2 linked regions of the Homo sapiens genome follow. The protein of the gene in region 2 purifies or fractionates together with the protein of the main gene of each other region. This does not show direct contact. Each region holds a gene or a part of one and is shown on either strand. Other genes may lie near its edges.

Region 1 (3,815 bases), on a different chromosome or scaffold from region 2:
TCTCCCTGCCCCTGCCCCCCCAACAGACCCCAGCATGTGTGTTTTGTTGTTTTTTGTTTTTGAGATGGAGTTTTGCTCTTGTTATCCAGGCTGGAGTGCAATGGCGCGATCTCAGCTCACCACAACCTCTGCCTCCTGGGTTCAAGTGATTCTCCTGCCTCAGCCTCCCAAGTAGCTGGGATTACAGGCATGCGCTACCACGCCCGGCCAATTTTGTCTTTTTAGTAGAGACGGGGGTTTCTCCATGTTGGTCAGGGGCTGGTCTCAAACTCCCAACCTCAGGTGATCCACCCACCTCGGCCTCCCAAAGTGCTGGGATTACAAGTGTGAGCTACTGCACCTGGCCCCAGTATGTGTTGTTCTCCGCATGTATCCATGTGTTCTCATCATTCTACTTCCACTTACAAGCAAGAACATGAGGTGTTTGGTTTTCTGTTCCTGCCTTAGTTTGCTGAGGATAATGGCTACAAGCTCCATCATGTCCCTGCAAAGAACATGATCTCGTTCCTTTTTATGGCTGCATAGTATTTCATGGTACATATGTACCACATTTTCTTTATCTAGTCTATCATCGACTGGCATTTAGGTTGATTCCACGTCTTTGCTAATGTGAATAGTGCTGCAATGAACATACGTGTGCATGTATCTTTATAACAGAATGATTTATATTCCTTTGGGTATATACCCAGTAATGGGATTGCTCAGTCAAATGGTATTCCTGCTTCTAGATCTTTGAGGAATCACCACACTCTCTTCCACAATGGTTGAACTAATTTACAATCCCATCAACAATGTAAAAGCCTTCCTTTTTCTCTGCATCCTCACCAGCATCTGTTGTTTCTTGACTTTTTAATAATCACCATTCTCACTGATGCTGTCCTATTTTTTAATCAAATTACTGAGCTTCATGCTATTTTTGGTCAAAGCCAAAAACTAATATGATGGTTCAAATTTCTAACACATACTGAGTTCCTGAAATTATTAATATCACACATAAGAATTTACATGGTCACTAAATTTGTATCATACAGAAAACTACTACAGACCAGACTTTATAAGAAAAACTTATGTGCAAAAAGACTAGAGGGCTCTATGCATGTGTACAATAAATCTTTTGGCCATGTTCACAGGGCCACTGACTTTCTTAACTAATTACCTTATAGTTGCCATACACCTAAGGAGTAAAAAATAATAAGCATTCTGAAAATATGACATTTGAGTTTCATTTTATCCTTAAAATTGCTCTCCTCAGTTTGCAAGAGCTTTAACTTGACCCAGTATCTATTATACGTAATGATATTTTCCATCTCTAAAATGTCATCAATGGAGTGAAGAGATGTGTCTGGGTGCACATGTATGCATGCATACAAAGAATCTATTAAGCTAATTTCAAAGACAGATTTTTATAAAATATGTTAGTGAGGATCAATAACAAATATATTTGTTTAATAACCTCTTCATGTTACTAAGTGCAGAAATTTCCTTTTCACTTACTTCCACTGCTGCTACAACCTGGGATATTTTCTGCAGAATATCCCATGAAGCCTCCATTCCCATTAGGATTAGAAGGTACTGATGCCAGAAGACCTAAAGGACAAAAAAATTTTCTTTTAAATTATGATCAAGATAAAATTCAAAGATAAGTACATAAACAGCTGCCAAAGAAACAAAGACAGTTCTTAACATACCTAGTCCTCTATATCGTGAAAGCTGCTGATAGATCTGTTTCATCCTTTCGATATTCAAACGGCTTGCCTCAGCATGGTTCACCATTGGTTTAGGATAATTAACTCCTATCAAACATTTGGCTACCTTTTGGATACCTTCTGGTGCATTCCAGGGATCATAGATATATTTTGCAGGGAAGCCTCTTAGGACAGGCAAATAACGCCTTTGGGAGAAAAAAGAAAGATTACTAATAAAATGCACTCTAAGCAAACTATAACTACTAGCTATGACAGACCAAAATCAAATCAAGACCATTTAAATGATCTGTTTACCCTTCTCATCTCTGCTGCCCATCATGAGTGGGGAATACTTTAAGCATTGATTAAACATGAAAAGCTCTTCTTGAATTAACTATTCCAAACTGAGTAGTAATCACCCTTGATTTACCTGATATAGTCTCCATTGGGATCTGTTCTCCTACCAAAACCAACAGGGCAATAGCAGTGAAAAAACTGTTGAAAAAAGGAACTACAAGACAGCCACATCCAACTTCCAGCATTTATGCTCCAATCTGCATCAAGCAATAATTCTTCAAATACCTTCAGAAGTAACAGTAACCAATTAGTTTGCACACACATAATTCGCAAAGCAAGCATTTTCAAGGTCACAGTAGAGCCAAAGTCAAGGCAAAGAAAATCTAGCACAGAATTGTAAAATTAAACATTCCAAAGTTAGCTTCCCTATGTTCTGTTCTATAATGAGCTCTTCCAGAGAAAGAAACATAGTGGTAATATAGTATGCTTCTGAAGAGAATTTACTTTTCCAACCTCTGCAGTGTTACTGGGAGAATGGAAGGTAAAAAAAATATTCAAATCACTGATTTAAAAGGATGTGGATTTAAAAGGATATTATTAGTAGACACAGGAAAAGCAGTCAACCACTTTCAAGAAAGCAAAAATGCTATTACATAAAACACCAACAAAAACTTAGCTTCATATTCTAGCCTAAATAAAGGAAGCATACTCAAATATAAATTCACTTAAAAATATATACTAGCATTACATAGTTTAATTTCGAATTCCTTGATCAGAAAGAAAATAGAATTAAAATAAATGATTTTTATATATATTCATTAAGTATGTTATATATTGTCTTTGTATACAACGGTGTACTAGGAAATATAAGAGATTAAACACACACACACACACACACACACACACACACAAGCTCAGAAATGGTCCTTGGATGGGGCAAATGTATGGTATTGCCAGAAAGGTAAAAAATGTACGTAATGGCCGGGCACGGTGGCTCATGCGTGTAATCCCAGCACTTTGGGAGGCTGAGGCAGGGGGATCATTTGAGGTCAGGAGTTCAAGACCAGCCTGGGCAATATGGTAAAACCCTCTCTCTACTAAAAATGCAAAATTAGCTGGGCACAGTGGTGGGCACCTGTAATCCCAGCTACTCGGGAGGTTGAGGCAGGAGAATCACTTGAACCTGGAAGGCGTAGGTTGCAGTGAGCTGAGATCACGTCATTGCACCCCGGCCTGGGCTACAGAGTGAGAGACTCCGTCTCAAAAAAAAAAAAAAAAAAAAAGTACCTAAGTCTTATTACGTGTAATCCACAAGATGTCGTCACAAAATGTAGTATGCTTCTCTTTACATAATAGAAGTATTACTAAAAAGCTGAGAAGTGAGGTGAAATGATTTATATTTTAAAATTTATAATATGAATTCACTATCTCTAGGAACTCTTTAGTGAATTCTTTTCGTGATAGAAATATCACCTATAAATATATCTATCAACAAATTCAGTGTTAAATTTTACAGTTCTCTTAGTGGCTAGGCTGGTTTAACCATTAAAATGACTTTAGGTTAATCAATTTAACCAGTTTTCACCTTTTTGCTTGTCTGATTATACCATTTTTCTCTGAAAGTGTCCCCGTATTTGGGGAATTAAATGTTTTATCCACTGAAAAACTACACCATAAATGAATCTATAAACAGACAACTTCTAGGATTTGTTTTATTAAGGTAAGGATTCCTTCAAAATAAGGCATGCTATATCAGTTAGAACACTTACCTTCATTCCTTCTTCCCAACTAATCCACAGGTCCCCTCGTGTCAGGAAGCAAGCAACTGCATGC
Region 2 (3,815 bases):
GCGGGAGGGGGAGGAGCTCATGGGCTTCTTGCTGGGGGCCTCAGTGCTGTCCGCTAAAGCACCTACTGTGTGCCCAGCCGAGCTGCCCCTGAGCACAGCCCTTGTCTGGCTGTCAGAGGTGAGCAGCAAACACTGGTGTCCCTCCTGTCAGGAGTCCAAGGGGCAAGAGGCCACGGAGGGCTTCAGGCAACACCTGGGCGAGCCCAGCGGCTCCTCTGACACTGCAGACACCTGCACCTCCCTGGTCCCCAGAACCCCCAATCCAGAAATCAGCCCGGGACGTATGGCCACTGTCCCAGGCTCTTCCTCCCACTCCCCACTGGGCAGGGATGGGAAGGCCCCGGCCTGGGGAGGTGGTGGTGGCAGGAACCAGAGGAAACCACATAAACCAAAGGGGAACCTTGTGGTTAGGACAAAGATCTGTGTTTCTATAAAAACGAAAAACAAGACTCATCCCCAGAAGTCCTGGGTGGGCCATGCTGCAGCCTTCCCCGTGACACTCTCCTTGGGCCAGGGCCCCGGCAGAGGCACCCAGCTCCTCACCTGACAGCAGACCCGGCCACCCTCGGTGCCCTGAGCTGGGCCTGATAAAGCCAAAGCCCAAAGCTGGTCGGCTACAGGGAGTGCAGAATCAGAGGACTGGAGCACATCCAGGGGGTGACCGCCTGCCCGGTGTAGACTTGGGCCGGGCGTCAGGTGAGGTGGGGGCAGGCCAGGCTCGGGCTTACCTGTTGGTGTGTGTGCAGATGAGCACCTTGGTTTCAGGCCTCCGGATGACCTCCAGGGAGGCCATGGCCAGCGTGTAGGTCTTGCCGGTGCCAAAGGGGCCATAGATGAGTAGCGGGGGGACACGCCTCCCATCCCCAGGGCCCCAGCCCGCGATGAGCGCCACGGCCAGCTCCTGCTTGCGGTTGCCACGCCGCAAGGGTGGGACAGACCAAGGTCTGGGCAGGGCGCAGGTGGGCAAGTCGGGCACCACCAGCTGCTCCTCAGGCAGTGTGTCCACTGCCTGGTGCCAGAGGCGGAAGGTCATCGGGTCAATCTGGAACTGCACCTCCAGGACCAGGCGGGCCTCAGGCTGCAGCCCCAGGGCCAAGCAGCAGCGGGCCGGAAGCAGCAGCCACAGCGCCTGCTCTGAGCTGGCCCGCCTCTCCAGCCGCACCTCGAACACCGTATTGTCGGGTGCAGGTACAGGGGCCACCAGGGCTGTGCTGACCGCCCGGCCCAGCAGGAAGCCCTGGTCTGTGTCTGGCATCAGGGAGGAGGGGACGGGGACCTCTGCGTACAGTGCTCCCGGAGGCGCGAAGAGCATGTTCAGCGCTGGCGTCTGCAATGCCGTCTTCAGGAACACCTGGCCCCGCAGGGTCAGCCTGGCAGGATGGCCTGGGTCAGCTCATGGGGCCACAGCTGCCAGCCCCGCTGCCAAGTCCACGCCCCCATCCGCTCCCGTTGCCCCAGCCGCTCCCATTGCCCCAGCTGCTCCTGCTACCCCAGCTGCTCCTGTTGCCCCCAGCTCACTTGGCCACCAGCTGCTGCTGAGCCGCCTCCTCCTCATAGAGAAACTGGTGCATCCTCTGCCGATAGTTGGTTGGTGAGATGGGGCCCGAGGCCACGCTGCTGCGGTTGAACTCCAGGGCCAGGGCAGGGCCCTTGTACTTGGCCATCAGGGCCGTCTGCTCGGCCGTCCGCTCCACGCCAGGCACCACGTGGCGGTTGCCAGTGTGCCAGCGCTCCATCTCCTCAGGGTGGCCGAGCGCCAGATTCCTGCAGGGTCCTGGGCGACGCCCCTGGCCCAGCTGCAGCCCCAGCTTTTGTAGCAGCACCGGCCGGCGGCCAAAGTCGAAGACCACCCATTGCTCAAAGGTGCCGAACGAGGCAGCCTGCACACGCACTCCCACCTGGAAGTCGGCAGTGGAGCTGGGCACACGGAAGCGCTCACCCCGTGCGTAGAGCCGGCCTGGCGGGAGGCCGGGAGCCACCAGAGAGAAGTCGGCTCCTGGCTCCTGCTTCAGCAGGGCCACGTGTAGCAGGGGCTCCTGGAGAGGAGGCCAGACGGTGAGGGGGGCCCAGGGCTCCCCCCAACCCTCCCGAGAGGCAGCCTGGCCAGCGTAGCCCAAGTGCAGGGTTCAGGTCCTGGCCCTGCCACTTCCTGGATAGAACGCAAGCAGGCCACCCGGCCTCTGCCATCCTCAGTTTCTTCCTGTGCTACATGGGGGTGGCTGAACCCTCCTGGGGCCCCTGTGGATGTCCCGTGGGGCAGTGTGGGCAGCTTGAGGCCTCACCACCCACTCTCCAGGTGCCAGACCCTGGTGAATCCTTGTTTTTGTTTTGGTTTTTGAGACGGAGTTTCACTCTTGTCGCCAGGCTGGAGTGCAATGGCGCGATCTCAACTCACTACAACCTCCGCCTCCTGGGTTCAAGTGATTTTCCTGCCTCAGCCTCCCGAGTAGATGGGATCACAGGCACCCACCACCATGCCTGGCTAATTTTTTTTTTTTTTTTTTTTTTTCAGTAGAGACGGAGTTTCACCCTATTGGCCAGGCTGATCTCGAACTCCCGACCTCAGGTGATCCACCTGCCTCGGTCTCCCAAAGTGCTGGGATTACAGGCGTGAACCACCGCACCTGGCCAAATCCTTGTTTTAACCCATATACTCCATAGAATAACCCTGCCAAGGTGGGACTGTCCTGGCCCCCTGTCTCTAGGTGAGGAGACTGAGGCAGAGAGGCTAAGGGACCTGCTGCAGGTCACGCAGGTGCTGAGCGGCAGTGCCTCGGTATTAGCTCCATGACCCAGGCTGTTGACGTCTGCCCGGGCTGAAGTCACCACTTCCCCAGGGCTCCCTCCGCCCAGTCGGAGCTGTTCTCCGCTCACCTCAGAGTGGACGGCAAACGTCCAGCTGTACTGGGTCTTCCTCTCCTGGGCCTGGTACATCAGGGGCTGGTTGCAGGTGACACGCACTCCATCAAGGGTCTCTGCCAGCTGCGTGGAAGTCTAGCCTTCAGCAAGAGGCCTGGACCCCACCCCACCCCACCCACTCCCAGGGCCCACTTACCACAAGGACCTCACTGCTGCTGCGCTGGTACTCGGCCAGCAGCCGCTCCTGGTAGGGCACCAGCCCGTCCTGCCAGGCCGCCTGCCCCCGCAGCTCCACAGCCTGCGTGCGCCGGACCCACTCCTGCAGCTCCTGTGCTGAGTGTGCCTTGGTGCAGGCGTCCCCATACTCACAGAGGTCAGGCCTGGGGGACAGGGAGGTCAGCAGGGCTACACAGAGGCACAGCCGCCGTGCTGAGTTCAAAGGCCGGGACCCCTCAGCCCAATACTGGCCTCTGTAGGGAGCAGGGGCTTTATTCGTCCCACCCACTCCTGTGCTCCCGGGACAAGGCCTGGCTCAAGCAGTTCCCAAACATGAACCTCCCTTATCCGGGTCCTCAGAGGCCACATGGCTTTAGCCCTCAGCAGGTGGCAGGGAGGCCCCCGTCCACTGAACCTGGGAGCCTCTGGCTCTGCCTACGGTGGGCTCCTGCCCCGCTCCAAGCTCCTGGGAACCTCTGGCTCTGCCTACGGTGGGCTCCTGCCCCGCTCCAAGCTCCTGGGAGCCTCTGGCTCTGCCTGTGGTGGGCTCCTGCCCCGCTCCAAGCTCCTGGGAACCTCTGGCTCTGCCTGTGGTGGGCTCCTGCCCCGCTCCAAGCTCCTGGGAGCCTCTGGCTCTGCCTGTGGTGGGCTCCTGCCCCGCTCCAAGCTCCTGGGAACCTCTGGCTCTGCCTACGGTGGGCTCCTGCCCCGCTCCAAGCTCCTGGGAACCTCTGGCTCTG

What was found.
Region 1: the proteins of HELZ2 (region 2) and CRY1 purify together in Homo sapiens (co-immunoprecipitation; one large-scale study listed by IntAct). This does not show direct contact.

What each region holds. Positions count from the first base shown.
Region 1 is NC_000012.12:106,995,800-106,999,614, forward strand, and holds part of CRY1 (cryptochrome-1), read right to left. Parts: coding exon 3,752-3,815; intron 2,268-3,751; coding exon 2,116-2,267; intron 1,892-2,115; coding exon 1,689-1,891; intron 1,588-1,688; coding exon 1,495-1,587; intron 1-1,494.
Region 2 is NC_000020.11:63,567,630-63,571,444, forward strand, and holds part of HELZ2 (3'-5' exoribonuclease HELZ2), read right to left. Parts: intron 3,240-3,815; coding exon 3,056-3,239; intron 2,983-3,055; coding exon 2,875-2,982; intron 2,037-2,874; coding exon 1,519-2,036; intron 1,371-1,518; coding exon 729-1,370; intron 126-728; exon of another isoform or gene 22-125; coding exon of another isoform or gene 1-21. UniProt on the Homo sapiens protein: Can degrade highly structured RNAs through its concerted ATP-dependent RNA helicase and 3' to 5' exoribonuclease activities. Shows a strong preference for pyrimidine over purine residues for its nuclease activity.